Homo sapiens: one gene and its partners. The gene in region 1 interacts genetically with each later gene. Each region holds a gene or a part of one and is shown on either strand. Other genes may lie near its edges. The genes, in order: SMAD2, STRAP and SNW1.

Region 1 (11,027 bases):
TTGAGTTTGGGCAGAGTTCACAGTCACATTGTTGATGTTTTTCCCTTGTGCCTCTTTCTTTACAGGGTATCTTCCTTCTTTTTTCAAACTCTCTGGCAGCCCCAAATGTGTCCTCTGATTCTAGGTCAGTAAAACTGCAGTTTTCTAAAAACAACCCCCCTGCAGTGTTCTGTTTGAATTCTAGTTGCCCTGCCTAGCTGTGGCTGGGGAGTGCCCTTGGGTACACAGCCACAGAAATGCAGCTCTCATCCAGTACAGTTTGCAGCTTTGACAGTTGGACCTCCCTTCAGCTTTTGTCTGTTTTTGATCTGTGTCTGCTATTTTCAAATAGTTGATTATTTTGTTCAGAGTTTATCATTGTTATATGAAGGAAAGTTAGCCTAATTGAGGCTGCTCTGCCATTACTGGAATTAGAACCTCCATTCTGTTTTGTGTATTCTTTTACTAATTGCATACTGTTTTAATTATTGAGAATTTATTATGTGCTTCAGAATCTGGTAGGACAGGTCTTTACTATTTGTTAGAATTTTCTGGTCATACTTATTTGTTTTGGCTTATTACAGTATTTGGACTAATACCTGGATTTTTAAAACATTTATTTTTATTGAGATTGCATCAAATATATAAATTTGGTAGAGTTAATACCTCTATGATGGTATCTTCCTGTGTAGGGACGTATGTTTTTCTTTTTTGCTCAGTGCACTTTTGTGTTCTTTAGTTATGTTTAAAATGTTTCTTTGTATAGTTTGACACAGTTTTAATTACATTTATCTAGATGCTGCTTATACAACTCTCACTATCTAAGGGGGATTGGTTCTAGGATTTCCCACTCATACCAGAATTAGTGGATGCTCAAGTTCTGATAAAAAATGGCATTGTAAGCCTGGGCACGTTGACTTACTTCTGTAATCCCAGCATTTTGGGAGGCTGAGGTGAGAGGATCACTTGAGTCCAGGACTCAAGAGACTTTGTCTCTACAAAAAGTGTTAAAATTAGCCAATCGTGGTGACACACGCCTATAGTCCCAGCTACTCAGGAGGCTGAGGCTGGAGAACTACTTGAGGCTGGGAGGTCAAGGCCGCAGTAAGCCTTATTTTAAAAATAAAATGGCATTGTATTTGCATATAACCTATGCACATTTTCTCATACTTTAAATCGGCTGTTCCCAACCGTTTTGGCACCAGGAGACAGAGTCATGAAAGGCAAGTTTTCCACTGACCGTGGTGGTGCGGCAATGGTTTTGGGATAAAGACGTTCCACCTCAGTCATCAGGCATTAGTTAGATTCTCTTAAGGAGTGCCCAGCCTAAAGCCCTCGCATGTGCAGTTCACAATAGGGTTCTTGCTCCTATGAGAATCTAATGCCACTGCTGATCTTCCAGGAGGCAGAGCTCAGGTGGTAATGGTCTCTCCCCTGCTGCTCACCTTCTGCTGTGTGTCCTGGTTCCTAACAGGCCGTGGACCGGTATCAGTCTGTGGCCTCTGAGACTCCTGCTTTAAGTCATCTCTATATTATGCATAATATGTAATACATTGTAAATGCTGTGTAAATAGTTGTTATACCATATTGTTTTTAAATTTTGTATTTTTCAATTGTTGTATTTTTTAGTTTTAAAAATTTACTTATTTTTTCTACTTTTTGATCCACGGTTGGTTGAATCCAAGGATGTGGAACCCTTGGATACAGAGGGCTCTATGTTTTATTATAAATTGGCTTATTTTAAAAAATATTTTTTATTATGTAAACAGGCAATGATTTTACTAGCTAGAAGCAAATTTAATGTTTTAAAATAAACCTTCCAATTTTGTTAGGCATGATAATGATGGAACTGAGGCTTAAATATACCCTATGGCAGCAGTTGGAAAGTGGCCGAATTAGGGTTGGGGTCTAGATCTGTCTGCCTCTAGATTGATTGCAAGTTCTTAACAATTACTGTTTATTCTTCTCTGATTCCTTTCAAGGATTAAATAAAGTACAATGTAAACTTCATGCTCTATTTTAGATTCTGGTTCTCATGTGAGTCCCAGAATAACTTGAGTGAAATGTTCTGATACAGAGCAGAATAGCCTCTTGTGCTACACTTTTGTTAATTATTTTCAAAGAATAGTCTCCTGTATACCATTTCTTTAATAGACTCAGAAGTCTGTAGAATTGAGGTGATTCTGTTGTGATTTAAACTACATCATGCTATATGTTTCCAATAGATATTTGAAAATATCTTTTAAATAAACCATTAATGTCATGGTTTTTAAATCAGTATATCTTTGGAAAAAAGGGAAAGGTCTAAGCCTTAATTTACCTGGCTTTTTCTGGCTTTTATAGTCTGGTAAATTTTGCAGCCTGAAAAAGCAAGAGAATCTATAAAATACTTGAATGAGATGCTGGAAAATTTCAGAACAGGTTTTGTTTTGAACTGTCGGGTCACTGTAGCCCCCAAAGCAGGGCATGATGTGTTCCTGCAGCCTGATAGCTATGTGACAGCACCTGTAGTACTAAAGCCAAGGATGCCAGGTGGTTCTGTTGCCTGGCCACAGGAAGCCAGCGCTTCTCACCATTGCCCTTTGAACTGTTGATCCAGTTAAGCTCACTAACAATGTGTAAATATGAAATTTAATCAATTGCTTGATTCATTTTCAAAAGATGTTTTGAAATACTCCTTTATCCGCATTGAAGTTTTGATGATTTTGTAATATGTAAGAAATGGACTTTTCAGAAAAGTACAACTTAGTACTTGAGACATTGGCTGTCAAAGTTCCATTCCAAAACTTCCTTTTAAGCTCTCTTTCCCTTCTCTCACTGACCAGAAGTTACTATGAAATGAAATAAAGGTAGGGAAAAAGGGAGAATTATCTCTGAGCTGCCCATATTCTGGAGAGAAATGTGGGAGAAAATTTTTAAGGTGGTATACTAAATTAGAATGACTTCAAAGTCTATTTCTTTATTTATTCTAGAGATGAGAACAAAATAATTTTCAGTAAAACTTAAAAATATCATGACCAGATAACCTGAAAATCTTAACTGTGGATGCATGTCTATTTTTATTGGGATTTTTTTCTATATTAAAAATCAGTTGACATCTGTTTTTAGATAATTTTTTAAAAAACTGGATTATAAAATGAAGCACTTAGTAAAGCTGATGGCAGAGGTTTTAGATCTTTTGAATACAGGAAAGTGGTAAGGGCATTATAGGTATGATTCATTGAGCTAGAGGGCGTTGGTGTTCACATTTTAAAAACATAATCATGACTTATCTGGAGTCACATGTTCCATTTTATTGGCTTCCTTCATATAGAAAATATAGTAACCAGCACTACATGCCTGTGAAAAAGTGAAGCAATTGTATATTTTCTGGGTGAAGGAAGTATTCTGTACATTCTCCATGTTTTACATCATGGTATTTTGAATAACCATGCTTCCATGTTCACATCAATTTTTTGTTTTTCAATTTATGCACAGCACTTGCTCTGAAATTTGGGGACTGAGTACACCAAATACGATAGATCAGTGGGATACAACAGGCCTTTACAGCTTCTCTGAACAAACCAGGTGAATATTCTGCCCTCTGTCGAATCTTAGAGATCTTGTGGGAGGGGGGTATATTTTGAAAGACCTATATGGGGTTGCTTAGTATAATTTTGCCTAGGATGTTTCCTTAATGTAAAATAAGGCATAGCATTTAAAATATCTGCTTGCCAGTATAAAAAATATATTAAATGTTTCAGCTGATGTTTTAATCAATGCAATTCTAGTTTGAATCTTCTTTAAATTACTGTATCCCCTAAAGAATAATAATTTTGATAACTATATATTTATTTTAGCTTGAGATCAGATTATAATCTGTTGTTGGCCTAATTTTTAAGTAGATACATGATGAGTTTTGCTAAATTTCTTGTTATCAGAATCTCATCTTTATACTAATAAATACATACTTAATGAACCCCTTATATCACAATTAACAGTAGGTTAACTCATTTTTATGTTACTTTTTTTAATCACTTCATTTTCTTTTTTGCGTATATGGTATTTGTTCATTTCATCTCATCATATTCATCACCATCCACATTTATTTGTGAACTACATAAATATACCTCAGTTCTCAAAACAGTCACAACTGGGTAAAGAGTTGCAGTAGTCTGAGGAAGTTACTATCACATCATTGTTGGTATTTATCATTCTTCACACTAGTTCCTTTTCTGACTCTTCAGTCACCTCCAGAATTAATATCCTTAGAAGCATCTCTAAAATGAGTTTGATTTACTAAACATAGAAGTTGACAAAGTTTTTCAAGTATAACTGCATAAACTCTCTTTTTTAAAAAATCAGTTTTTCCCAAGTTGTTAGCCTTTCATTGGCATTTGAGTCATTTATGTGACATATTTATAAGAAACATCTGCTAGTGCTGCTGCATACTTTTATCAGATCCATTAAATAGTACATTTTTGTTCTTGATTCTCACTAAAACTAACTAAATGGCTGTCATTCTTTTCTTTATGCTTTTATTGTACTAATTTAGCCCATTTGACTGCACTTTTTTTTTTTTTTTTTTAAAGTTCCCTCCTTTCTTTTCCCCTTGCTTCCCAACAGGTCTCTTGATGGTCGTCTCCAGGTATCCCATCGAAAAGGATTGCCACATGTTATATATTGCCGATTATGGCGCTGGCCTGATCTTCACAGTCATCATGAACTCAAGGCAATTGAAAACTGCGAATATGCTTTTAATCTTAAAAAGGATGAAGTATGTGTAAACCCTTACCACTATCAGAGAGTTGAGACACCAGGTAGGAATATTGCAAGTTTTTTTCTTGGTTTTGAATTAAATGCCTGAACTTCAGTATATTTAAGTACTCTTGTGACCCAGGAAAATTTTAGTGTAAATTCTAATAAATTACCTTAAATTGTGCATATTATTTGGTGGTAATTAAAATTTTTTTATTTTTAAAAATTTTTAATGAGAAAACATATCTGTTTCTTGGAATAGCATATGATTTGGCATGAAAGTGCATATCCAGGAAATCCTGTAGATTGGCAGTCTGCTCAGCGCTATGCTGATGTGCTTCTACATGTCCCTGCTGCAGTAACATTTTCAAGCATTTTGCACTTGGAGTGCTTTTAGAAGTACTTTAATGACATCATTTGTATGTACACCGTTTAGTAAAGCTTGTAACAAGACTTTTCATTTAGTTAGCTGTCTACCTGAAACTATTAAAAAATATAGCAGTAGCTGCGTTTTTGGAAAATTTCCTATATCTGATTTTACAGATAAAGACAATGTTAAGTTTTCCAATGGGGATTTATGAACTTTTATGGTAATATAATATTACCAGGATCACATTGTTCCCAAAAGTTTGAGATAAATTAGAACTTGGAAATTTGGATAATAGACTACCTAAGTTAGAGCCATAATCAGATTTGTCATTTTCTCAGTAACTAGTATATATCGAGTAGGTGGACCCTAGCTTTAAAAATTAAGCTACAACTTCTCTTCTTGTTGAAAACTTTAAAAAAGGTTCCCCCACTCCCCTTTGCTCTTTGCCATTAACTTGGATTTCTTGAACTTTTTCAGTTTTGCCTCCAGTATTAGTGCCCCGACACACCGAGATCCTAACAGAACTTCCGCCTCTGGATGACTATACTCACTCCATTCCAGAAAACACTAACTTCCCAGCAGGAATTGAGCCACAGAGTAATTATATTCCAGGTATTTTTGCCTTCTGAATCTCCTAAAACTTGGATAGATACAAATTTTGTTCATAAGCATTCAAGTTTTAGTAAATTGTGGTTTCACTTTTTTAAAAATGCTTTTGAGTTTTTAATAGAAAAATTGGATTCGTTGGGTGATTATTTTGTGAAATGTATAAGCCTAGTACATTAAACAGTTTTGTTTGGAGAAGAGTTTTACTTTATATTTCATTTTCTTTTGCAGTGACTTTAATCAAAGTACTGTGAGAAGCAGAAAAGAAAAGATCTTAGTAAGTTTGTCTTAGTTGTTGAAGCTAAGCGAGATGCAGAATGTAAGCAAAACAAATGGTGTAGGAGAAAAGTACCCCCCAAACACATGTAACTGAATATCCACCCAATGATCACTTTTTCTTAGATAACTTGGTAATATTTAACAGAAATATAACATTTCTATAAGAAATATAATACTTAGTTCTATAGACATAGCAACACTTACATATTATAACACGAACGTCAGAAAACCTCCTTTAATTATGTTTCGTCTGCATCTCAGTAATTTCTGATGAAAATTGAATTCAGCTACATGGTTCTCAAATTTTGTTCTGATGTATTATGTGATCCAGTAATACTCCACGATATGATATCTGGCCTTTTCGTTTTTTATGGTTTCTTTTTTTTTTTTTTGGAGAACAACTAATACTTTGTTACTTTTCTTGTATGTTTTCCTTTTTGTTTGGTTGATTTTTCTCCCTAGCAGAAACAGCATGATGTTAGGATGAGGATTAAGCTGTAGTGTCTCGATTTCTTTCTTCCTTTTGTAATATTCTTTTATTCCACTCTTATTTTATACACTAAAAATATGTAAGGAACTTAAGAGCATTTACAAAATTCTTAAAATACAGTTTTAGTACATTTAAACAATTATTTCTTTCATGTATCCATCATGGAAATAATGCTTATTCATTGAAGATAATTTTTTAAATGTAAGGAAGAAAAAAAAGAAAAGATAACTAAGAAAGATAAGTTTTTTTTTTAAATAGCTGGTTTTACAAATGGGAAGTGGTTTTTGATTGTTTTAATGTATATTTCTTTGATTACTGTTTTATTCCAGAAGAGGATTTAAAGCTGCTTTATGGGTTGCTAGGAAATACAAACTTACTGAAGTTAAGAGAGGGAGAGGGTGGGATGTAGTATGATAACACTAGGAGGAGGGAAAACCCGGGACTATGAAACAGGGCAATTGCTAGGTAGAAAAGGGAGTGGAGTTGTGTGAACGTTGGTGTGGGGAAGGGGAGGCATTTTAAGTCGTTAGTGTGGGAATTACTGTTATTCAGCCAGCAATACTAACCTTAGGTATAAACATGCAGTCTTAGGGACAACACGCATATCCAGTAATTATTTGGAAGGCTATTCACCAGAATGTTTAGTGGCTTTCACTTGTGAAGATGTTTGGGCTCATTTTTCCTTTCTTTTTTATTCCTTTAATTATTGAGATTTGAGTATTTTATAAAGTAGAAAATCAGAAGTGGATTATACCCATTTGCTTTTCTGGACAGTGGGGCTTTATCCGGTTTCAAGCAACAGCAAAACCAAAGGGTTCACATTTTATTCCACTTAAAAGAAATTTTAACATTTTCTCAAAAATGCTAATAGCTTTATTATTTATTACAATAATGGAAAAAATAAACACAGTAAGATAACGTATTTTAAGGTTCAGCATTTCTTTCTGATTAGATCTTTGAAATACAGGTTAAACTCAAAAAGCTTAGCGCCGTTTAACTTTATTAGCTTTAACTTTTAAAATATGCATAATATGTACCCTTATTTTTATGTTCTTTGAGTATATGAAGATAATTTATTCTTAGAATTTTTGTTTTAAAAATTTGGGGGTACTGACACTTAAATGAAAAGTTTGATACTTAAAGTTTGTGGTTAGTTTATTGAATAGATATTGTAAAAGGTTATTGAAGGAGACCCTTAACCTGTATCTTCTCTTCCTCTTTTTTTTTTTTTTTTTTTTTTTTTGAGACGGTGTTTTGCTCTTGTTGCCCAGGCTGGAGTACAATGGTGTGATCTCGGCTCACCGCAGCCTCCACCTCCTGGGTTCAAATGATTCTCCTGCCTCAGCCTCCCTAGTAACTGGAATTATAGGGATGCACCACCATGCCCGGCTAATTTTGTGTTTTTAGTAGAGATGGGGTTTCTCCATGTTTGTCAGGCTGGTCTCGAACTCCCCACCTCAGGTGATCTGCCTGCCTCGGCCTCCCAAAGTGCTGGGATTACAGGCATAAGCCACCGCGCCTGGCCTCGTTCTTTTGATAATTTTAAAATTGTTTGGATATGTGTCTTTGTTATCTTGAATCGCTCAAAACTGTTCAGTGTAAATGTAAAACTGATGAAAGTCTTCTGAACTTATTTTTCCTCCCTGGAATTACAGTTGATTAAATTGTATACATGTTTTTATTTTACATGCAGTTTATTCAGCTATTCAGATACCTTTCTGAACATAAGTGTTTTATTCAGACAACATGTTGGAAATAATATATTAGAATCCTAATGGTTATTTTCAGGGAGCATTTTACCTCTTTATACAGTAGTCTATATTTGAATTGAATTTTCTGCTTCAAACACTTAGACTTTACCAGTTAGGAATCCTTGGAGAAACACACTTTTTAGATAGAATTCAGCCTGGACCAATCCGGAACCATACTCTACCATATTTTACCCTATAGAACTTAGTGTAAGTTGTAAGCCTGTATTATTTAATACTTTTATAATCCAAAATCTTGTGTGTTTTTTAATTTTCTAAGTACTCATAAAATAACGATGTTCATTAGATTAAACAACAACAACAAAAAATTGTAGTTACTGATGGTTTTGCAGCCTACTGATTCAGATCTGAGGCATTTTTAAAGTTACGTTTTTGGCTCTTGCCCCAGAATATGTACATATAGGAATGAGCAAGATACGTACATAATGTGTATGTCCAGAGAGTAGGATTTTATTAAAAGTGGATGTTAAGGATTCACTGCAAAATTTGGACAAGATCCTGAATTATACACCCTCAGTATGCAATATTACTTTTTATAATATTATATAACATTATTATTTGTTATTTGGAGTGATTCATTGGTTATCTCTGGTAGCTGAGAGAAAAGGTAGTGAGATTATGTTGCAGCTGTGCTTGATTTGTTTTAAACTTTTGTAGAAACGCCACCTCCTGGATATATCAGTGAAGATGGAGAAACAAGTGACCAACAGTTGAATCAAAGTATGGACACAGGTAAAAAAAATGTCTTTGAAAATTCCTCAGTTATTAGATATACATTTCTTGTATTGTTTGAAATTCACAAAAGATGTTACTCTTAAATTTAGAGAAGTTGAGACGCATACCAAAAAAGATGATCTTCTATCTTGATTTAACATATCTGAACTACCAAAGAGGTCCATGTTGTCACTGAAAAATTATAACGTATGCTACTCTGCAGAATAATTGTTATTTTTTATTAGAGTAAATGAAAATTTGAAAACATGCACATACTTTTATTTCTTTTTAAGTATTTGCTTCTGTTGAAAATTTTAGTAACCCTATGACTAAGTATCTCTCTGTGATAAAAAACCATAATTACTCAAATAACAGATTTTCAGAGGAATTTGGGGGTGAAGGATGGGGATCAGCTTTTCACTGCTTTTTTAACCTAATAGTGAGTTTTGAATTATAGTAGATTAATTTCTTATGCTTAGCTATCAACTCCAAAAAGTGATGAAGAAAAAAATTAAAGCTTTAAATCACGTCTTACGTAATAAAATGTATAACTCAGCAGAACTAATAAACTACCAGTGAAATCACTTTGATGTCATTGTAATTGTCCAGTTTGATTCATTTTACCTGTCTGTATCTTAACTGTTGGACACCTTAATATCACAACCTGACAAATTATACCATCAGTCTTTCTCCACATCTTAACACTAATGCATTCTTGGTTATGATAATCTAAATTATTTTTAAGTGGATTAACATTGGTGGGGGAGGGAGGGGTTACAATAATTCTCTTGTTTAAATCCGTTTTTTTGGACTCCCAGGTAAAGAAGTTTCTGCTGTAGCTAATCATACATTTGGGTGTTTAGGAGTACCAGATAACTAAGAAAGGTAGATAATCTAATGAACGTTGGAAATAACGTGTTATACATCTTAATGCAAATAATATTTGACTTTCCACATATGTTTTACTAAAATTAGATGACACTCTTCTTGAAGCAATAATATTCTTTTTTGCCTGTGATGGACAGCTGTTACTGTGACATTTAAAAGTGAATGATGGGAAAAGATACTGAACGTCATAAACCACAGTGAGATACTACCTCACACCTACTAGATGCTATAATCAAAAAAGGACAATAACAAATGTTGGTGAGGATGTGGAGAAATTGGAGTCCTCATATATCGCTAGTAGGAATGTTAAATGGTTCAACACTTTGGAAAAGTTTCCTGTTCCTCAAAAAGTTAAATACAGAGTTAACATATTGTGGCCAGCTATGTATCCAAGTGAACTGAAAACATGTCTACTCAAAAACTTGTACATGACCATTTATGCAGGCATTATTCTTAATATTCAAAGTTAGAAACAACTCAGATGTCCATCAAATGATGAATGGATGAATAAAATGAGGTATGTTTCTGCAATGGAATTATTCAACCATGTAAAGGAATGACAGTATAGCATGACGTGTGGCAACATGGATGGACCTTGAAAGCAGTATGTTAAGTGAAATAAGCCAGAAAAAAAAGGCTGCAGGGATTCTAATTTAGTGCACAGACACCTATTCAGCAATATAACTGAAACACAGGAGGAGCAATAATACAAGTATTCGTTATGTATGATAAATGAATCAAAGTACAAAAGTGGAGAATAAGCTGAATCAGCCAGCTAAAATAATTGCAGTGTTGGGGCTAACTTTGAACCCAACCTAATATTTCTGTTTCAGTGGAGCAGTGTTACTGGCTTTCTGAATGACAGGTTTAAAAATTACTGTATGGCAATGGGAATATGTGATTCATGAGATGCCAACAGTTAGTTTGGCTGCCAGCCTCTTACCCAATATCAGTTTCTCTCTTGGGGCCATGGCAAGAAACAATTCTGACTGATGCAGGGCTCCAATTTAGAACAAAGTTGGCCACCTCTCTAACTCTGGTTCATACCTTCCAGAAGGAAGGACATAATTAAATTCATCTTTCATAACCTGCTGTTAAAAATAATGAATTGAAATTTTTTAAAAGGGCAACCAGAGGATAAATTAGGCATAATAAGTAAGTGTACGAACAAGCACTTGTTACTTTTTTCTTTTTT
Region 2 (11,027 bases), on another chromosome or scaffold:
ACTGTCTGTGTTACTGGGGAGATGGAAAATTCTTAAGGCAAACATTAAAACCTGTACTTAATTAATTTCTCATCACAAAAGTGGTATATCATTGACCCTTTCTCTGTAAGATTATTCCTTTCCAAATCTAGCACACATTCTAGTTTCAAACTGTCCCTCTAAAAAAAGCAAATGAGGCTTCATGTCTCATTAAGGATGGAGAAAAAGAGGTAAATGAAAACCCCATTAATTCTATAGAAAGTAGATTTAAAGTCTTACCAGTTCAACCTCCAATTTCCATATCCTAAAACTCACTGCCTATTTCTCAGGGAATCAATTTTTATTATGACTATAGAGAGCCACCAGGTGGAGCTCTTTTACACACTTTGCCTCTTAATTTCCTACAGTCCACTAATTATTCTGTCACACAGAAAGGTGAGATATAGATCAACAATGATCCATAAATATTTTAATCCATGGAACCTAATGAGAAAATGTATAGATTAGGAGCACTGTTATATTCAAGTAGTACCTTTAAGTATGAACCTTTCTCATTTACTTTCTAATGCCTCATCACCTTATTAGTTCTCAAAGCCCTTTACTAGACCAATGTTCCTATTCTGTCTCCCATCTGTGTCCCACCAGAGAATAGAAAAGTTGTAAGAGTACAAAGAACACAAGGTTTTGGAAAGAGAAAGGCTAGGCAGATCTGGTATTCACTGTGACTTCAGATCTTGGGCAAATAATTCAGTTCTCTCAATCTTGAAAAAGAATAAAATATGAAACCAAAAACATTCTAAAACTTTGAAAACTAGCATTAAATAAAAGTAACAGAAAAGAATATCTTATTTATAAATCACTTGTATTCAAGTAATAAAAACTGAACCATAAGCAATTAAAATAGATTCTACATGGTCCATCACCAAGGTTCCATTTGTGCAACCCAGATGCATCAATGTTCCCCAAGAAACAAAACGTAAAATTGTCTTTTGTTCTTTGGGTGTAATCTAGCAAGCTTCGTTCTTTGGTAAAGCAGGGCAGCTAGAAACAGACAAGAACAAGAAGAGACAGCTTATAGATAAAAATATATATTTATAAAAACTAAACATATTTTTGACCTAAAAGCAAAAACTATTTGGAAAGGCTAAAAGTAGATACTGAGAACCACATGTAACTATGTGAAATACCTGGTCCATCAGATAAATATACATTAACTTCAAATTAATCCCCATGCCTTTCCCTTTCCCTTACTAAGGACTGTTATCATGAAAATGAAAGCAAAACTCAAACTCCAAAACAGAATAAATAAAAAGCTGATAAAAATAACTATCCAATTCAGATTCCTAAAGGTATCCCTGTAATATGCTATACTGATTTTTCCCCCACACACTGTTCTTTACGGAGTCTTAGGAATTCCTAAGTTGGCAAAAAGGAAGACGGGCCAAGTAGATGGGGTTATACACCCACAACATAGTTCAGAAAGAACGGATCTCCTTGCATGTGTTTAGCATATGACTTTGACATAAGATTCCCCCCTCCCTCCCAGCCAATAAAGCCTAAAACTCACTGTACCATAATACATAACATCAGCATAATGATGAACTTTAGTTAAAAGGATAAATTTCTGCATACTTTGTTTACAGATCTATAAAAGCATCTGACCCAAATGGTTAAAACTCCTTTACTTTTTCACTTGTAAGCACCAAGCTTAAGTTAGCTGAAAAATTTACTTTCAACATATATATGTAACATATATATATATATAAATGAGGTGTTAATTACTGGGACTTAACATATGATAAAGGTAACCACATCACTGTAAGGGGACAACTCACCTAATTCTTCTCCACTATTATAATCATACTTATAAAGTTTAAAATCTTCACCGCCTGCAACAAGAAATTCTTTCTCAGGATGAAGAGATGCAGAATTGATGGTTGCAGGAGCTTCAAAGGATTTAATTGGGTCCAAACTGAAAAAAAATTTAAGTAGTATTTACAAATCTTGAATATGGTATAAATAACGAGTTACATTTGAACTGTTCTTAAATTCTGAAACCCAAGGAACAATTAAATACTCATTTACTCAAACATAAACACTGATGTAAAAAAAGCTGTTAGCAAAAAAAAAAAAAAAAAAATCAAATGGATACTATGCCCAAGTGGAGCTCATCTCAGCAATACAAAGACATCTTGATGGAGGGATATCCAGTTTATGCAGTGGATGTCTTCCCGGAAATGAGTGTGTTGGCTAATTAAAACAGTATGAATAATACACTGGGATTTTTGCTCTTAAATAAACTTCACCTGTATTGTTTCATTTTTCTACAACCACATATTATCTTTGTAAACAGAAAAAGTTTTCACAGTAGGTAATTAACATAAAGGATTATTTATATATTATTATTAATTGCTGAAGGTTTAAGCTCCTCAGCAAGATAAACTTTCTATGTCATAAAATATAAACTGCTGAAAACAGTTTCTACTATAAGGCAGTAAAAGACTAACAAAATTTGGGGCTATAGTTATATAATAAAAATCAATGCATAATAACAGCTTCATCTGAAATTCAATTACAGTTTGGACATTAGCTTTTTCAGTTTAACCCTAAAAATCATGAAAGGCCTCCAATACAAAACATTATAGTATCCCAGCTCCTAAATACTTCCCATCATCATATACTTTAAAGCATGTTAATTAAAGTTAGTCATGACTTATGCAGGATCACTACATAGCAACTTGCTGGCTCAAATGCTAGAATATTCAATGGTCCAGAAAATTTCTGCCACCAACATGGGATTTGCCTAACTGCAGGAGTGAGTGAAGAGCATTAATAAACCAATTGATGGCTCCAGGCCATAGTATTCTACTACTATCAGTTTACTGTATGTGTATAAACTCCTTGACATTGCTTAATTGCTCTCCTCCAATTTTACCGCCTTTTCTTTCTCCCAGTTAGCCCTTTAGACACAAGGTTAAGACACTGGTCAAATATCAAAGTGTAATGTGGTATAATCCTTATGGAAATCAATTAAGTGTCATGTATAACTAAGAACTTTAAACTCATTTCTAGCCTTTGAACTGATAATTCTACTTACAGGATCCTATCTACTGTAAAGAAACACTCAGAGATGTGCTAGAACATTCACCGTGGTGCTAAAACAGGGAAACTAACCCATAATTTAGTACAACCTATGATGCAAATACAGTGTATCAAGTAAAAATGTTTTCAAAGAAGTTTTAAATGGCTAACAATATTTTTAAACAAATCAAAATGGTATTCATTATGGTCCTAGTAATTAAAAAAAAAAACACAAATACTGTACACCCACATATATAACATAGAAAAATGGACTAGCAGAAAATATAACTACCATTATCACTCTTGCACCTATGGGTATAATATTGTGGGTACATTTTTTTCAATTATGTTATATATTCCAGTCTTTCTCCAAGAGTATTTACTACATTTAAAGTCGCAAAATTCAAATCTGTTTAAAAAATTCATTAAGTCTGCAAATACTCAGGAACAGAAATAAGATTATTCCTTCTCTAAAACTTTAAGGTGAAAATAAATAGTAGAATCAAGATCACACTGTTTTTTTGTTTTTTGTTTTTTTTGAGACAGAGTCTCACTCTGTTACCCAGGCTGGAATGCAGTGGTGTGACCACAGCTCAAAACAACCTCCACCTCCTGGGATTAAGCAATTCTCCTGCCTCAGCCTCCCAAGTAGCTGGGATTACAGGTACTCACCACCACACCCAGCTAATTTTTCTTCTCTTTGTATTTTTATTTTAGAGACGGGGTTTCACCATGTTGGCCAGGCTGGTCTCAATCCCCTAACCTCAAGTGGTCCGCCCACCTCAGCCTCCCAAGGTGCTAGGATTACAGACGTGAGCCACCACGCCCAGCCCACACTGGTTTTATATAGTAAAAAACATTAATGACAGCACCATTTCAGTAGTTTTTGCTTTTTTTTTTTTTTTTTTTTCAGAGGAGGTTTTGCTTTGTCATCCAGACTGGAGTGCAGTGTCAAGATCACAGCAAAATGCAGCCTCAACCTCCCAGGCTCCAGCAATAGAATACTCACCTCAGCCTCCCAAGCAGCTGGACTACAGGCGTGTGCCACCACACCCAGCTAATTTTATTTTTTGTAGAGATGGGGGTCTCACTGTGTTGCCCAGGCTGATCTCAAGCCATCCTCCCACCTCAGCTTCCCAAGGTACTGCGATTATAGGCATAAGCCACCACTCCTGGCCTCTTTACTTTTAAAAAAAGTAAATACCTTCCCATTTTTAAGTAGCCAAAATGTCTTTTGTTACCTAAAAAAGAAAATGAAAGTATTTCTTGGACATACCTTACTGCACTATGAAAAGCAATAGATCGTCCATAAGTTATAACCAAAATCTCTCCCTCAGGAATATATTCCATACTACTAACAGACATATTAAAATTTAGAGATTTCACTTCTGTCATAGTAGCATGATCCCAAAGTCTGCAAAATAAAGATAAAAATATGATGTTTACTCATGTAAGAAAAAAGTTTATAAATTCTAATTACATCTGCAGATTAGCCAACGAAAGAACAATCACAATTACAGAAAAACAACATTCATTCCAAGTCACAAATTACAGATGATTAAAAAAAATTCTGGGTTTCTATATACAATGTCAAATTATGCATGATAGCTTGTAAGTAAAATCAACTTTAATACCTACATACACTTCCCAATTTGGCAAAACTACATTATTAAGACAAGTTCTAATCTAGTCAATTTCAGCATTGCTATAAATAGTGGTTCTTACACTCTGTTTTTGTGAATCTAGTAATAGCTACACATCTTTCCAAAGAAATATACATCAGGTGTCAGCACACAAGATTTTGTATAGAATTTCAGAGGCTTCATGGTCCCTCCCTTTAACCATTCTGCCCACAGACCCAGGTTAAAAACACCTGCTTATAAGGTATCAGCAATTTAATTTTCTTCTGAATTTTGCTGTCTGTATACACAAGGTGAGCATCCCTTAATTGAAAATACTTGGGACCAGAAAAAAGTTGGATTTCAAACTTTTTCGGATTTTGGAATATTTGCATTAGACACTTACCAACTGAGAATTCCTAACCTGAAAATAGGAAATTCAAAATGCTCCAATGAGCATTTCCTTTAAGCATCAAGTCGGCACTCAAAGTCTCAGATTTCAGAGCGTTTCAAATTTCAGATTTTCAGGTTAGGGATACTCAACCTGTATTAGTAAATAGATAGCTCCAGATAAATGTGACCTGGGTGCAACTTAAATTTTAATGTTCAGAACATTTTTCACACATAATATTAAATGTATTTAAAATATAAGCTCTAAGGTAAAATATTTTGCAAATTTTAAGTTTGTTTTTCTTTTGAGACAGTCTAGCTCTGTCGCCCAGGCTAGAGTGCAATGGCACGATCTCGACTCACCGCAACCTCTGCCTCGCAGGTTCAAGTGATTCTCCTGCCTCGGCCTCCCGAGTAGCTGGGATTATAGGTGTGTGCCACCGCGCTTGGCTAAGTTTTGTAATTTTCATAGAGACAGTATTTCGCCATGTCGGCCAGGCTGGTCTAGTACTCCTGACCTCTAATGATCCACCCGGCTCGCCTCCCAAAGTGCTGAGATTATAGGCGTGAGCCACCATGCCCGGCCTTAAATTGTAAATTATTAAAGAAAAATTACTTACCGAACAGTTTTGTCATCAGCAGAAAGAATCTGTTTATCCTCACTGCACCACAGAGCTTTTTTTATACCAGAAGTATGACCACTAATTTCCTTAGGTTCTTGAGATAAAACAATTTAAAGTACATTTGTTAATATATGATTTTTTAAACTGAACAATATCGGAACAATTATATATTTTTAAAAACACACATTTTAAATTAGACTGCAACTTTTCAAAGCCCAGCCCAATTCAAACTTGATGTTTATATAGAATACAGTTAGTTTTTCTATATTGGAACATAAATTTATCTGCATGACAGGGACCCAAGGAACTACCATGCTTGCTATATGTAGCTGAGTGAATGCACCACTCACTCCCTCTAGGCTAAATTTCTGCACAACTGATAATATTCAAAAGCATTATTGTATAATAAATAAAAAGTATTTTATATTTATTATATGTATAATAAATATAAAAGCATTATTGTATAATTGTATAAGTATAATAAATATAAAAGCATTATTGTATAATATACAATATTTATTTGTACAATAATACAAATATTATTGTATAATATAAAAGCATTATTGTATAATTGTATAAGTATAATAAATATAAAAGCATTATTGTATAATAAATAAAAAGTATATATTTATTATATGTATAATAAAAAGAATTTTATATATAATAAAAAGTATATATTTATTATATGTATAATAAATAAAAAGTATTTTATATATAATAAAAAGTATTTATTATATTATTAATAAAATAATTAACGTGGCATAATTTAATAAGAACACGGACTCAGGAACAAAACAGTTGAATCTGATTGCAGTACTATGGCTAACTCTGGGACGTTTATCCAAGCAGCTATTGATAGTAAATAATGAGAAATAAGGGTTGGAAGGAAAAAAGGGAAATAGAAAGTGGGACAGCAATTCCCAAGAATGTTTCTACACTGTGAGGAAAACATAAAAAAAAAGGAAGGGAGCTTAAATCTGTAGGAGATTATCCTTTCGAAGAACTTCAAAAAACCCTCACTGCTGTCTCTAGGGGCAAAAGCAGACACTGGAGGCAATGCCATTCAACACTATTTTCACCTTTGGGCATGTTACTTAACTTTTTAACTTTATTTCCTCATCTGTAAAATGAGATAACAATGGTTACAAATGCGAATAGGGCTTAACAGATACCCGATACACAGTAAAACCTCATTTTATTTTCTGCTGCCAGCACAGCGAAAGAGCAACTTTCATAAAACAGCTTTGGGAAAGGTAAAGAGCATGAAAAATGTCAACCCAATCCCTGAACTACCTTGCTTTGACCCAATCCCTGAACTACCTTGCTTTGTTGAATGGGTTCATAGAAGAAGTGAGGTCAGAGTCCTTTGCTATGTTTTGGCATAGATTTATCAAAAAAGAAAGGAGAAAAAAACTTCTACATGCAATGGAGAATAAAAAAATCTGCAAATGCGCTTTGTTTCCTCACCTTAAAAATGTTTTCATAACAAATTACTGTAACATTAAAATGTAAAATATTTTAAAAAGTTCTCAGAAATGGAAGGTATCTCAAGAGAATAACCGCTTAATTTCCAATGTGGTTCTGACTCTCTTATTACTCTTTAAAATTTTATAGATTTATGACTACATAAATGTCCACATAATAAAATCTGAAAGATACCAAATATATAATAAAACAAAATTATGTTTGTCATGTTTTGGTAGCTAAGTATATATATGGTGAGGGAAATTATTAAAATATTATAAAATAAACATGTAGACTGGGGAAGACACCTATAACTTCTGTAAAATGAGAGAATGCATAAAGAATTTCACCACCAAAATGTTAAAAACATATATACCATAAAACCACCTTAACAAAATTTAAAAGCAAATGATAAATTAGAATTCAATAAAGAACCTTTAAAAACCAGTAAGAAAAACATGAATAACACAACAGATAAATGGACAAAAGGTAGACAGGCAATTATTCCATAAAAAAGGGAATATATTAAAATGGTATTCAATAGCATTTTAATCTCATGAATATTCACATTAATACAACAGAATTATTTTCTTAAATTGACAAAGAGAAAGTTAGTTATCAGTGCTCACTAGAACATGTTGGGTATAGATACATACATATATACCCATACTTTGTTGGAAGACACTTTGGTAGTATCTATCAATGGCTTCCAACAATTCATTTTTTTTTTTTCTTTTTGAGAAGGAGTTTTGCTCTTGTCCCCCAGGCTGGTATGCAATCTCGGCTCACTGCAACCTCTACCTCCCGGGTTCAAGCGATTCTCCTGCCTCACCCTCCTGAGTACCTGGGAATTACAGGCGCCTGCCACCATGCCCAGCTAATTTTTTTGTACTTTTAGTAGAGATGGGGTTTCACCATGTTGGCCAGGCTGGTATTGAACTCCTGACCTCAGGTGATCCACTCACCTTGGCCTCCCAAAGCACTGGGATTACAGGCGTGAGCCACTGCGCCCGGCCACCTTCCAACAATTCCACTCCTCTTTGTCCCACCAATTCTACTTTTGCTTAGTTATCTTAAGGAAATCATTGTGAAAATATTTGCAACTGTAAGGATGTTTAGCATAATACTGCTTTTCATATTTAAAATCTGTAAGTAGCCCAAACGGGCCAAAACAGGAAACTAGTTAATTCACTTATGATATAACCACAGGATGGAAAACCAGAAAGTCATTACAAACAGTTCATAGACTATTTAGTGAAATGAAAAAACTGTAACTGCAGATTTTTTAAAATTCTTTCGAATAGCTAATATATTTACATGGTTCAAAAATCTAAGCAATATGTGCACACAACTGAGAATTCTCACCATCACCAACTTCTATAAATAACCAATCTTTCTTACCAAAAAATAGTAACACTGTTCTGCACTGTTTTAAAACTTAATGATAAAAATTTGCCATAATAAATTTTCAGTTTGGAAGAAGGTTATACAATAGCAACATAGCAAATAAACTTATTTTTTAAAAACTGTGCAGAAAAAAAGACTGAAAGTTTATAAACCAAAAACTGATGAATTACGTTTTAATTTTCTTCTTTGTTGACTATTTTTTTTTTTTTGAAACTGAGTTTCACTCTTATTGCCCAGGCTGGAGTGCAGTGGCGCAATCTCGGCTCACTGCAACCTCCACCTCCCGGGTTCAAGCGATTCTCCTGCCTCAGCCTCCCAAGTAGCTGGGATTACAAGCGCCTGCCACCATGCCTGGCTAATTTTTCTATTTTTAATAGAGACGGGGTTTTGCCATGTTGGCCAGGCTGGTCTCGAACTCCTGACCTCAAGTGATCCACCCGCCTCAGTCTCCCAAAGTGCTAGGATTACAGGTATGAGCCACCGTGCCCGGCCATGACTATCTTTATTTTCCAAATTTGAGTACTGAGCATGAAATTCTTTAATCAGTTATTTAAATTAAAAGAAAATAAAACTAGAAGCTGATGTTTAAATTATGCTTACCTGCTTCAGGTTTGTTCAAGTCATATATGCGTAACAGTTTATCCTGTCCCCCGGTTAACAAATAATTACTATCCTGAAAACACAAAGTAAAATGTGAATAGATTAACCATTTTAATAGTTATTTCTCTTTCAAATTTCAACACCAAATAAAATCAAAATCTAGCTCACAGACATCACAAAGAGATGCCAAGACATAACCAATTACTTCTGAGAAGATACTGTGGAACAGCTGACCTCTCATAACTGCCAAGACTTGTAAGCTTTCCACTTCAAAAGCGTTACACTACACTACATATACATGAACTCTCCCATTCTCCCCTGATCCTACTCCTCTCCCTTGTGAGAGGCCCTTTTCTGATTATCTCAAATTTATCTTCTCCCTTCTATTAGTAGTTGGGGAAGGCTACTTGAGCTTTTCAGATGTTTTTTACATGTTGAAGGACTGGTACTCGTTCCACAGTATCTTAAAAGCTTGACAGGATTAACTATGAAACAAATTCATAGAGCTTAATACACAATCAAATCAAATATGAACCAAGAAATAACAAATATTCCACACAAAACATATCAATCAAATATACACACCAATCAAGTATAAAAGCATTATCACACTATGTACCAGCAACTTAACTCGCTAAAATAAATTCCATTTTCTGATACCTGCGTGAAATCCACAGTCTTGACAATGTGTTTATGAGCCAGGGTCATCAATTCATCTCCTGAGACAGCATCCCACACTTTGCTAAAAGTAAAAAAGAGAAAATTAGTAGGATAAATATTACCCAATATATTAAAAGGATAAATACAATTATAATATTGATGAGTACCAAATAAGTTAGATATGTGAAATGTTACATAAATGTATTATAAATCTCCTTTATCTCTAATATCCCTCACAGACTTCATTTGATAAAATATTTAAATAAGCTTAAGGGAAAAGAAATTTCTCTGTAAAAACTTTATAACCAATCTAATTTTCTTTGACAGTGGAAAAGATATGAACAATTTAAGCAAGTAAGATTCATGAACCAACCCATCCTCCTTACTTTTATTTTAGCTGACAGCCATAATATCCCTTTAGCAAGCCTGTCATACATTTTAACCAATTTTTAGTTTCACCATGCCAATTTTTTCTCTATTCTCCACTCAGATGCACAATAAAAAATAAAAATAAATAAAAAAACCAGAAATCCTTAAAAATGTTACAAGGGAATGAAAAGCCTTGGTACAGGCTAAGTAAAATTTTAAATTAAGATAGTGGAGAGACAATGTCCACTTCATCTCTTCTTCAAAGCTGACTTAAAATTTCAAACTCTAGTACAGTTAACTTCCCCCAAACTATCAGCCTTTGATTATATAATGCTAACACTGACTATTTTAATCTTTACATTGTTTTTTCTGTCCCACCCCACCCCAAAATACAAGTTGGTTATAGGTATACATACATTTATATGTGTATGTATATTCTGGGCGGGTAATAGTTGAGCAATACTTTACAAAATTACTCTAAAAGGGTTCCCCCAAATAAAAAAGCTTAAGGAAGGGGGAAAAAAAAGTTGATTTTAGATCAGAACAGGTCAGTGAAAAATAAACAAGAAAACTTTGCAGACAGGGAAAAGAATTGCTAAGAGTGAAAAAGCTATGTTCCATAGAGATTTCCATTTTAATGCAACTGCTATTTATTTTCAGGAACACAGTGGGCAATAAAATGGTAGAGGGAAAAAAATCAGAGAAAAGCAAGATGTATCTTTTCTTTTGCTTACCCCAATACATAATAAAATATATTAAATATATATCATTCTATACTTAGTGCTAAGGCACAAATGGGAGACAAAAAATACCCCACAGTAGGTTCTTGCCATAG
Region 3 (10,085 bases), on another chromosome or scaffold:
ATGCCTTTGACTGTGGAAGTGGTCACATGACAATAAAGGAATGCTTTAGAAATTGTTGTATCTACAATGAATGGATCATTGGGACATCACCAGAAACTTTCCGTCTTCTAGGTTAATCCTTATAAAGTTATCCTTGAAGTAGAGGAGCAATTGTAAGATTTTGTTTTTTTTGGCAAAGCACAGCATGACTTGAATGAGACTAATGAGGACCAGTTTGTCATCTACAGGGACTAGACATCTTAATATCTGTTTTCTGTCGAAGGGCTGGAGGGGCAGGGTACATCCAAGCACTCTAGAATCTGTTTTCCGTATGCGATGTATAGGTTGAAACTTTTGCACAAGGGAAAATAGCAAAATTGTTTAAATTAACCAGAAGTCTGTAACTAGGTTGAGTAAGGGCTAAATATTATCTTTTCTTGTTTTTCATTAGGAACACGTGATGATAGTCGTGGTGGTGGTGAGGGTGACTGGATTCAGAAATGAGTGCAACAAGGCTTTGAGGCTTAATTTTCTAGTTTCTAGAAACGAAGCTTAGAACAAGAGTACTGATCAAAATTTCCCTTAGCTATTACTGTTAGTATGGTTTGCATCTAGAATGACACAGAAAGCTCATGACCCGTATCTTCTCTAATGGCAGCAAGGAAAACAGGAAGCTTAACAACACAGGGATTTAGCCTTGGGTAATCAGGAAGGGTGTAAAGCAAGGTTACTGACACTTATAAATGTCTGTGATCCGATTTTTGGCTGGGCATGGTGGCTTATGCCTGTAATTTCACTACTTTGGGAGGCCCAGATGGGAAGATTGCTTGAGCCCAGGAGTTTGAGACCGGCCTGGGTAAGATGGGAAGACCCCATCTCTGCAAAAAATATAAAAAATGAGGCAGACATGGTGGTATGTACCTGTGATCCCAGCTACTGAAGAGGCTGAGGTGGGAGGATTGCTTGAACCCAGGAAGTTGAGGCTGCAGTGAGTTGCGTTCATACCACTGCACCCCAGCCTGGGTGACAGAGCAAGACCCTGCCTAAAAATAAAATAAAATTAAATTAAAAAGTCCGATTTTTGGCAGATGAAAAAGTTGGTAGTTTGATTTGGAACTCATGGAAACTTTCTGAAGTTCATGATTAATCTTTTCCTATATTTTGAATTTTTAGGACAAGGAGACTGGCTTTCACAGAGGTTTGGGTTGGGTTCAGTTTTCTTCAGAAGAAGGACTTCGGAATGCACTACAACAGGAAAATCATATTATAGATGGAGTAAAGGTAAATTTATTTCTATGCCAGATACATACATGATATACATGTAGGTACTATTTAATTATGTATCAATTAAATAGATCATAAATGTGGAATGATGGGGACTTGGAGAGATTTGTAACTGAAGCTGCCTTAATGCTTGTTAAGAATGGTGGGGTGGAGGCTGGGCACGGTGGCTCACGCCTGTAATCCCAGCACTTTGGGAGGCCGAGGCGGGCGGATCACAAGGTCAGGAGATCGAGACCATCCTGGCTAACACGGTGAAACCCCGTCTCTACTAAAAATACAAAAAATTAGCCTGGCAAGGTGGCGGGCGCCTGTAGTCCCAGCTACTCGGGAGGCTGAGGCAGGAGAATGGCGTGAACCCCAGGGGGTGGAGCCTGCAGTGAGCCGAGATTGCGCCACTGCACTCCAGCCTGGGCGATAGCGAGACTCCATCTCAAACAAACAAACAAACAAAACAACAACAAAAAAAGAATGGTGCGGTGGTAGGCCAGGCGCAGTGGTTCATGCCTATAATCCCAGCACTTTGGGAGGCCGAGGCGGGGGGGATCACCAGAGGTCAGGAGTTTGAGACCAGCCTGACCAACATGGAGAAACCCCATCTCTACTAAAAATACAAAAAAAATTAGATGGGCGTGGTGGCACATGCCTGTAGTCCCAGCTACTCAGGAGACTGAGGCAGGAGAACCCAAGAGACAGAGGTTGCAGTGAACTAAAATCGCGCCATTGCACTCCAGCCTGGGCAACAAGAGCAAAACTCCATCTCAAAAAAAAAAAAAAAAAAAAAATGGGGGGTGGTAGAGTGCCCAGTTTTAAAAGGTCCAGGAAAGTACAAGATGACCCTTTAATGGGTAGCAAGATATGTAACACAGTGGACATAACAGTCTACTTTTCTTTTTTCTTTTTGAGAGTCTTGCTCTTGTTGCCCAGGCTAGAGTGCAATGGTGCAATCTTGGATCACTGCAACCTCCGCCTCCTGGGTTCAAGCGATTCTCCTGCCTCAACCTCCCGAGTAGCTGGGATTACAGGCATGCGCCACCACGCACTGCTAATTTTTTTTGTATTTTTAGTAGAGATTGGGTTTCATCATGTTGGTCAGGCTGGTCTCAAACTCCTGACCTCAGGCAATCCGCCCACCTCGGCCTCCCAAAGTGCTGGGATTACAGGCGTGAGCCACAGCGCCTGGCCAGCAGTCTGCTTTTCAGGTCAGGCAAGCTGGGGCTGAAATCTTGGCTTACCCACCATGTGATCCTGGGCCAAACTGATTTACTATTTTATTTTAAATTTTAGTTTTAATGAGACAGGGCCTTGCTATGTTGCAGGGTGGTGTTGAACTCCTGGCCTCAAGCAATCCTCTTGCCTCAGCTTGCCAAAATGCTGGCATTACAGGCCTGAGCCACTGCCCCTGGTCTGATTTACAATTTTTAATTGAGGGTTAGGGAGTCATAATACCAACAAAGATGGTAAAAGGAATTTGAGGAGAAAACGAAAGAACAAGGGACAAATAAAAACTGCCTGGGTTATTCATTATTCATACTGACTCCCTAATAAAGTGATTTTCAGTTTGAATGTTTTTGCAGACATTGCCTTTCCTCCCTTACAGTGCTTATTTTTTTAAGGTCCAGGTTCACACTAGAAGGCCAAAACTTCCGCAAACATCTGATGATGAAAAGAAAGATTTTTGAGACTGCAGCCTATTAATAAAGTTAACATAACTGAGAATTTTGTCTAAATGTTTTTATTTGAAACAAATAGTTGCACCAAGCAAGAGGTTACTTTGCCCACTCCAAATTAAAACAGAGCACAATAGGGGCAAAATTTATTTGGCAGGACAGTTCCAGTATGTGAACATCTTCCTCCTCACTGTGGTTGGGGTAACTTTACTCATATGCAGCTGTTCTTACACAAAACATTAACCCCAAACTACTAGTGTCACATAAAAGTAAGTGGTCTTGACTTTGTATGTGGGGCAGCATGTTCTATAAATGCTGAAAGGTGGGAGAAGCACAAACACAACCCACTCTTTAAAAAAAACTAAATAATTCAAAGTAGAATTTTCTATCCCCCCCATTTCTCCAGTAATAAAAAGTAGTGCTGGGATCTGGCACCCAGATTTGGTTTTTATCCTGACCATTTACAAAGTGTTCCCCCATATGACTTGCATCATTAGGGTTATGGGTAAGAGTTCATTCACTTTGGAGAGACCTGTGCCTATTCCTTCCTCCTCTTCTTGCCTTCATGCTCGTGTTCCTTGGGGCGGCTGCTATCTGAGGGTCTTTTAGAGCCACCATGCTGTTTGGCTTCTTCCAAAAACTTGTCCAAACCAAAAGGATCTTCCTCAAACTGCACTGGTCCTTCTCGGCCTCTCTGTCTACGGTCTGAACCAGAAAACTCCTTGTCGGGAACAAATCTAAGGAAAAGGAGAAAAAACTATGAACTACTTTGCTTTCACCAGTGTAAACACTGAAATTGAGTTGTATGGCTTGGCACCTGTTGGTCTTTATTCTGGCTTCTAGGTCATCACCATACATGTCCTTGTCCAGATTTTTACTGGGCCTATAAATACTCTGGGCCATATCTTTACCACCTCTCCAGGCTTGATCATAAACATTATAAATTTCATCTTCTCCACCTGCAAATCCACTGTCCATACCCTGTGGAAAAATGGATGACATTAAATAAAAGTGTAAACATTGTTTATCAAAAGCTGAATCATAACATGTTTACAGTAAACCCTTGCTAATGTACAGCTCACATTTTCAACAATCTGAACTGCAAATTAAAAAGTCTTCATTAAAAAACTGGTAGCACATGAACTTCATAACAACTTTGGATTCTTTTTTTTTTTTTTTTCAGACAGAGTCTCACTCTGTCACCCAGGCTGGAGTGCAGTGGTGTGATCTTGGCTCACTGCAGCCACCGCCTCCCAGTTCCAGTGATCCTCCTGCCTCCGCCTCCCAGGTAGCTGGGATTACAGGCATGTGCCACCACACCCAGCTAATTTTTGTATTTTTAGTAGAGACAGAGTTTCACCATGTTGGCCAGGCTGGTCCTGAACCCCTGACCTCAGGTGATCGCCTGCCTTGGTCTCACAAAGTGCTACATAGCTCACTGGAGCTGTGACCTCCCTGTGCTCAGGTGTTCCTCCCACCTCAGCCTCCCAAGTAGCTGGGAGTACAGGTGTGTGCCACCATGTCCAGCTAATTTTTTGTAGACAGGGTTTTGCCATATTGCCCAGGCCGGTCTTAAACTGGGTTCAAGCAATCTGCCTGCCTAGGTCTCACAAAGTGTTAGGATTACAGGCGTGAGCCACAGTGCCCAGCCAGAAATATTTTCATCACAATTTTTAAATGTTTTAAGCTTAAGCTTCTAACAGGTGATTATCTTGAAAATATTTACTTACGTGAAATTTCACCCCTAGATCCCTTTGCTCAGCTGGTAAGTTGCCATTGTATAGTGGTTAAGAAAGCTTTGAAATTGGCTGGGCACAGTGGCTCACGCCTGTAATCCCAGCACTTTGGGAGGCCAAGGCAGGAGGATCACGAGGTCAGGAGTTCAAGACCCGCTTGACCCAACGTGATGAAACCCTGTCTCTACTAAGGATACAAAAATTAGCCTGGCATGGTGGCACATGCCCTGTGATAATCCCAGCTACTCAGGAGGCTGAGGCAGGAGAATCCCTTGAACCTGGGAGGTGGAGGTTGCAGTGAGCCGAGATGGCACCACTGCACTCCAGCCTGGGCGACAGAGTGGGACTCCATATCAGAAAACAAAAACAAACAAAAAAAACTTTGAAATCAAGACACCCAGTTTGAATCTTAATTCCATCAGTCACAAGCTAAACCTGTGTTTCAATTTCCTCATCTATAACATAAGAGATAATAGTATTATTTCATAGGATTTTTGTAAGAATTGAGATAATAACAAGACTTAGAACAATGCCAAGAATATAAAATGCATCTAATAAATTATCACTTAGAAGAGCTTACTTAAAACCTCCAAGTCATAATTAAGTTTCCCACTCTACTTTCCAGTAGAACTTACACTTCTGTATTCTTGTGTGTGCGCATGCGCCCGCGTGTGTTTTCCCAGGCTTAAAGTGTCCTAGTTAGCTAATGGCAATTGGTACTAGAAATCAGATTTCCTGACAGCCAGCCTAGTACTTTAATCCCGTTTTACAGCTTCATTTTTAAAAGAATCCCAAATTGATATATTTCTATAGCATTAAAAGAAAAATCCAAAAATCAACAACAAAAAAACCCAAGAGGCACTTTTGTAGGACACTGACTCTTTTATTTTTTTGAGATAGAGTCTCAGTCACCCAGGCTAGAGTGCAGTGGCACAATCTTGGCTCACCAAGCAATTCTCGTGCCTCAGCCTCCCAAGTAGTGGGGATTACAGGCGTGCACCACCACACCTGGCTAGTTTTCGTATTTTTAGTAGAGATGGGGTTTCACCATGTTGGCCAGGCTGGTTGTGAACTCCTGACCTCAGGTGATCTGCCCGCTTCGGCCTCCAAATGTGTTGGGATTACAGGCAAAAGCCACCATGCCTGGCCTCCCTGGTTCTATTTTAGAAACAAAAGGTTGACATACCACAACACCAAGTTTTTAATCACCTAATTTCTTTCTTCTCCTAGTGTCTCAAATCTCAGCCCACTATAAGAAGTTAAAATCAGAACTGTTTCATCTTGTCTCAAGTTTCAACATACAACTTCCAATTTTTTTGTCATCATGCTGGCATTTACATCCAAATGTAAAGTATGTTAATTTTCGTTTCCCTGAGGATAGGTATTCACATCAACACACACAATATGCTGTTCCTAAACTTGTACCTTGGATTGGTTGAAGAGCCTTTGGTCATACTGAACTTCATTGGAAGTCCGAGGATTAGGAACACCGAGAGCAATAACTTCACTGATATCCCGATTTTCATTTCTCTGAAGTTTCGACCTATTTTGAAATACGACATCACTAACTGAAAACTCTTTATAGACAAGCTGAATATGTTCAATAGAAATACAACCAATCTCAGAAACAAAGGATGTGAATATGTCACATTCACATCTTGTGAACATATATTCCTTGATGATACATAATCAAGCTGGCAGCCCTTATAAAGCATTTCAGATTAGAGGGAGAGTTTTACAATTAGGACGTCCTGTTAGCTCAAAAGAACATCTAACAGATTCGTTGACATGGAATTCTTTAATATAAGCAATCACCTTACAACCATGCTGAGATATAAAATTGCTATGGTCTATATTTACTATCATTATATGATGGTTTGGGGGTTGGGGAAGTGGATACAATTTAGATGTAGCACACGAAACATTTTAAATAAGCTAGAAACAGCTCTTTTATCTAACCACATTTAGTAATTTTATCCCACTAGAATTTTGAGGAAAACATGTCAATGACTGAATTAGTATGATTTTTGACATTCAGATTAATTTGGTTTCCTGGCTGTTGCATTATATATGCAACCTACATCCCAATGAAACCATGGTAACTGTCATTACTTGTTTTACTAAAAACTCAGGTCACAAAATGATTTCTATAGGCTGTTTGATTTTCATCCAGTTACAATTTCACAGCTTTTCTATGTTGTCAATTCTGATAGCCACTTTACTCGTTTTGAGGGCCCAATTTATCCACAGAGCCATTGTAACTTTTACAACTTAGGAATTACTAACCAAGACTGTCATTAATTAAACACTTTCACACTTTGCTCCTCCTTCTACATGTACTTTACCCTCAACTCTCAAGAGTAAGAGTCTTTGCTTCTCCATGACATCATTTATCCAGGGAGATGAAATATGCCAATTAATACCAGCAGGAATCTTTTTCATGCTTATTTATTTTTATTTTTTTATTTTTTATTTTTTATGACACGGAGTCTCACTCTGTCGCCCAGGCTGGAATGCAGTGGCACGATCTTGGCTCCCTGAAACCTCCGCCTCCAGGGTTCAAGTGATTCTCCCACTTCGGCCTCTCGAGTAGCTGGGACTACCGGCATGTGCCACCACACCCAGCTAATTTTTGCATTTTTAGTAGAGATGGGGTTTCACCATGTTGGCCAGGCTGGTCTTGAACTCCTGACCTCAAGTGATTCGCGTGCTTTGGCCTGCCAAAGTGCTGGGATTACAGGTGTCAGCCACTGTGCCCGGCCTCTTTTTTGTGTTTAAAATATGACTTGAAAAATGTATTAGGCTCATGGGATGATCAGAGCACAGAAAACTGTTCATTTGGGAAGAAAATATTCTATATTTGCATTTAACCCTCACTCAGAATTCCACCTTAGTATTGCAGCGTTCCCTCTACTTTTCAGAACTTTTAGTCCTCAGCCTTTGGTGAGCCATAAACTTCCCCAATTCCTACTTTACTCTATGCCCTCATATATATATTTAGTTTGTTCTATACGTTTATACTTACTAAGAGTGCTTTGCAAATTTTCTCAAATTATTTTATGGATAGCTCTGTCTTTCTGAACTGTAAGTTAAACTACTCCTAAAAATGAGCTGATTTTCTACTTCTTTCAAAACTGCTCTTCTCCTCAATTGTACTAGATGCAGTACTATGCATATAAAATGATCTCAATAAAAGCATGAAAGCTTATTTCCTGTCTAAAGAGGCACATAATCCATTTATCTCACCATTTGAGGTAGAAAAAGAACGGACTATAACAGTCCAAATTTACTACTACATCCTTTTCAAAAATCTGATCTCGATTCCGTTTTCTATATTCCCATCATTCTCAATTCTGACTTAAGTGATGGAAGATTAATTCCAAAGACAGTCAACTAGAGCTAAGACAAAGTAGTTAAGTACAAGAAAATTAAGTGCTAATTTATTAAGTTATCAAACTAAAGAAGAAAGGGAGAGAAGCAAAACTGATCTTAGTGGACTAAAACTCTGCTCTAAAAGGTACAAAAAGGCCACTCTTCATGATTGGTACATATCTTTTTTTTTTTTTTTTTTTTTTGTGAGATGGAGTCTCGCTCTGTCGCCCAGGCTGGAATGCAGTGGCGTGATCTCGGCTCACTGCAAGCTCCACCTCCCGGGTTCACGCCATTCTCCTGCCTCAGCCTGCCAAGTAGCTGGGACTACAGGCGCCTGCCACGACCATGCCCGGCTAATTTTTTGTACTTTTAGTAGACACAGGGTTTCATCGTGTTAGCCAGGATGGTCTCGATCTCCTGACCTCGTGATCCGCCCGCATTGGCCTCCCAAAGTGCTGGGATTACAGGGGTGAACCACTGCGCCCGGCCACCATGATTGGTACACATCTTAAATAACACCTACCTCTTATCAGGAGCTGCCCTGGAAAGATTCCGGTCATGCTGTCTCTCTTTTCGCCTGTCATGCCGGATTTCATCCCTCTCACGTGCCTCCCCATCCTCTGTGTGAACAGTTGAAAAGTACTTCACTGTAATATGTATTATATGTGTGCATACGTGTACACGTGTGTATATATATAATTTTTTAAAAAGAGACAGCATCTCACTCTGTCACCCAGGCTGGAGTGTAGTAGCATGAACATGGTTCACTGCAGCCACTACCTCCTGGATTCAAGTGATCCTCCTGCCTCATCCTCCCGAGTACCTGGGACCACAGATGTGTGCCACCATGCCTGGCTAATTTTTAAATTTTTTGTAAAGATGGGGTCCCACTTATGTTGTCGAGGCTGGTCTCAAACTCCAGGCTCTAGTGATCTTCCCACCTAGGCCTCCCAAAGTGCTGGAGTCACAGGTGTGAGCCACTGCACTCAGCCCCATTAGTATTTTGTTTGTTTTGAGACGGAGTTTCGCTCTTGCTGCCCAGGCTGGAATGCAGTGGCGCGATCTCAGCTCACCGCAACCTCTGCCTCCCGGGTTCAAGCGATTCTCCTGCCTCAGCCTCCCAAGTAGCTGGGATTACAGGTGTGCACCACCATGCCGGGCTAATTTTTTATTTTTAGTAGAGATGGAGTTTCACCAAGCTAGTCTCAAACTCCTGACCTCAAGTGATCTGCCGCACCCAGCCAATATTCTGAACAAGAGAATATTTTTTAACCTTAGAAAATTCCAAACTTCTTTGTAGTCACACTCAGCCTTTTAAACCTTACTTGCAATTAATTTAAGTCTAATAAATGATATTAGTTTAATTTTTGAATGTGAATTCTAGAATCAAGCATGCGGCTAAAATATTTAAGGGTAAAATGTATTGCTGTCTTCAACTTACTTTGAAATGCAATGCAGTAAATCGGACAGACAGATGGACAGAAAGATGGGCAAATATGTGATAAAGCAAATTTATCAATGTTAATTGCTTTTAAAATTTATTTTTGATATATAATCATTATACATATTTATGGGGTATATATATTTGATACATGAACAAAATGTGTAATAATCAAATCAGGGTAATTAGGATATCCATCACCTCAAACATTTGTTTGTGTTGGGAACATTCTAAATCTTCTAGCTATTTTGCAATATACAATAAATTATCATTAACTATTCTTCTCTTCTAGCTATTTTGCAATATACAATAAATTATCACTAACTATTCACCCCACTGTACTAGGAACATTAGAACTTACTCTTTCTAACTGTATTTCTGTACCATCAACCAATCTCTCTTCATTCCCTGTCCCCAACATCCTTCCCAACCACTGGTAACCACCATTCTACTCTCTGCTTCCTTGAGACCAACTTTTTTAGCTCCCACATACAAGTGGGAAGATTCAGTATTCGTTTTTCTGTGCCGGGCTTATTCACTTAATAACCTTCAGTTCCATCCATATTGTTGCAAATTACATGATTTCATTCTTTTTTATGGCTGAGT

Evidence for each region.
Region 2: of SMAD2 (region 1) and STRAP, changing one suppresses a phenotype caused by changing the other (phenotypic suppression), as found in Homo sapiens cells (one study listed by BioGRID).
Region 3: of SMAD2 (region 1) and SNW1, changing one enhances a phenotype caused by changing the other (phenotypic enhancement), as found in Homo sapiens cells (one study listed by BioGRID).

What each region holds. Positions count from the first base shown.
Region 1 is NC_000018.10:47,862,994-47,874,020, reverse strand, and holds part of SMAD2 (mothers against decapentaplegic homolog 2), read left to right. Parts: intron 1-3,456; coding exon 3,457-3,546; intron 3,547-4,584; coding exon 4,585-4,778; intron 4,779-5,563; coding exon 5,564-5,698; intron 5,699-8,887; coding exon 8,888-8,962; intron 8,963-9,919; coding exon of another isoform or gene 9,920-9,981; exon of another isoform or gene 9,982-11,027. UniProt on the Homo sapiens protein: Receptor-regulated SMAD (R-SMAD) that is an intracellular signal transducer and transcriptional modulator activated by TGF-beta (transforming growth factor) and activin type 1 receptor kinases.
Region 2 is NC_000012.12:15,888,806-15,899,832, reverse strand, and holds part of STRAP (serine-threonine kinase receptor-associated protein), read right to left. Parts: intron 9,906-11,027; coding exon 9,824-9,905; intron 9,237-9,823; coding exon 9,164-9,236; intron 5,787-9,163; coding exon 5,690-5,786; intron 4,475-5,689; coding exon 4,337-4,474; intron 1,952-4,336; coding exon 1,815-1,951; intron 1-1,814. UniProt on the Homo sapiens protein: The SMN complex catalyzes the assembly of small nuclear ribonucleoproteins (snRNPs), the building blocks of the spliceosome, and thereby plays an important role in the splicing of cellular pre-mRNAs.
Region 3 is NC_000014.9:77,714,620-77,724,704, forward strand, and holds the end of SNW1 (SNW domain-containing protein 1), read right to left. Parts: intron 8,659-10,085; coding exon 8,562-8,658; intron 6,210-8,561; coding exon 6,092-6,209; intron 3,912-6,091; coding exon 3,748-3,911; coding exon of another isoform or gene 3,668-3,747; coding exon 3,469-3,667; coding exon of another isoform or gene 3,444-3,468; 3' UTR 2,980-3,443; downstream 1-2,979. Other genes in the region: SLIRP (SRA stem-loop-interacting RNA-binding protein, mitochondrial isoform 1 precursor), read left to right, coding at 1,153-1,260, 2,877-2,942. UniProt on the Homo sapiens protein: Involved in pre-mRNA splicing as component of the spliceosome. As a component of the minor spliceosome, involved in the splicing of U12-type introns in pre-mRNAs.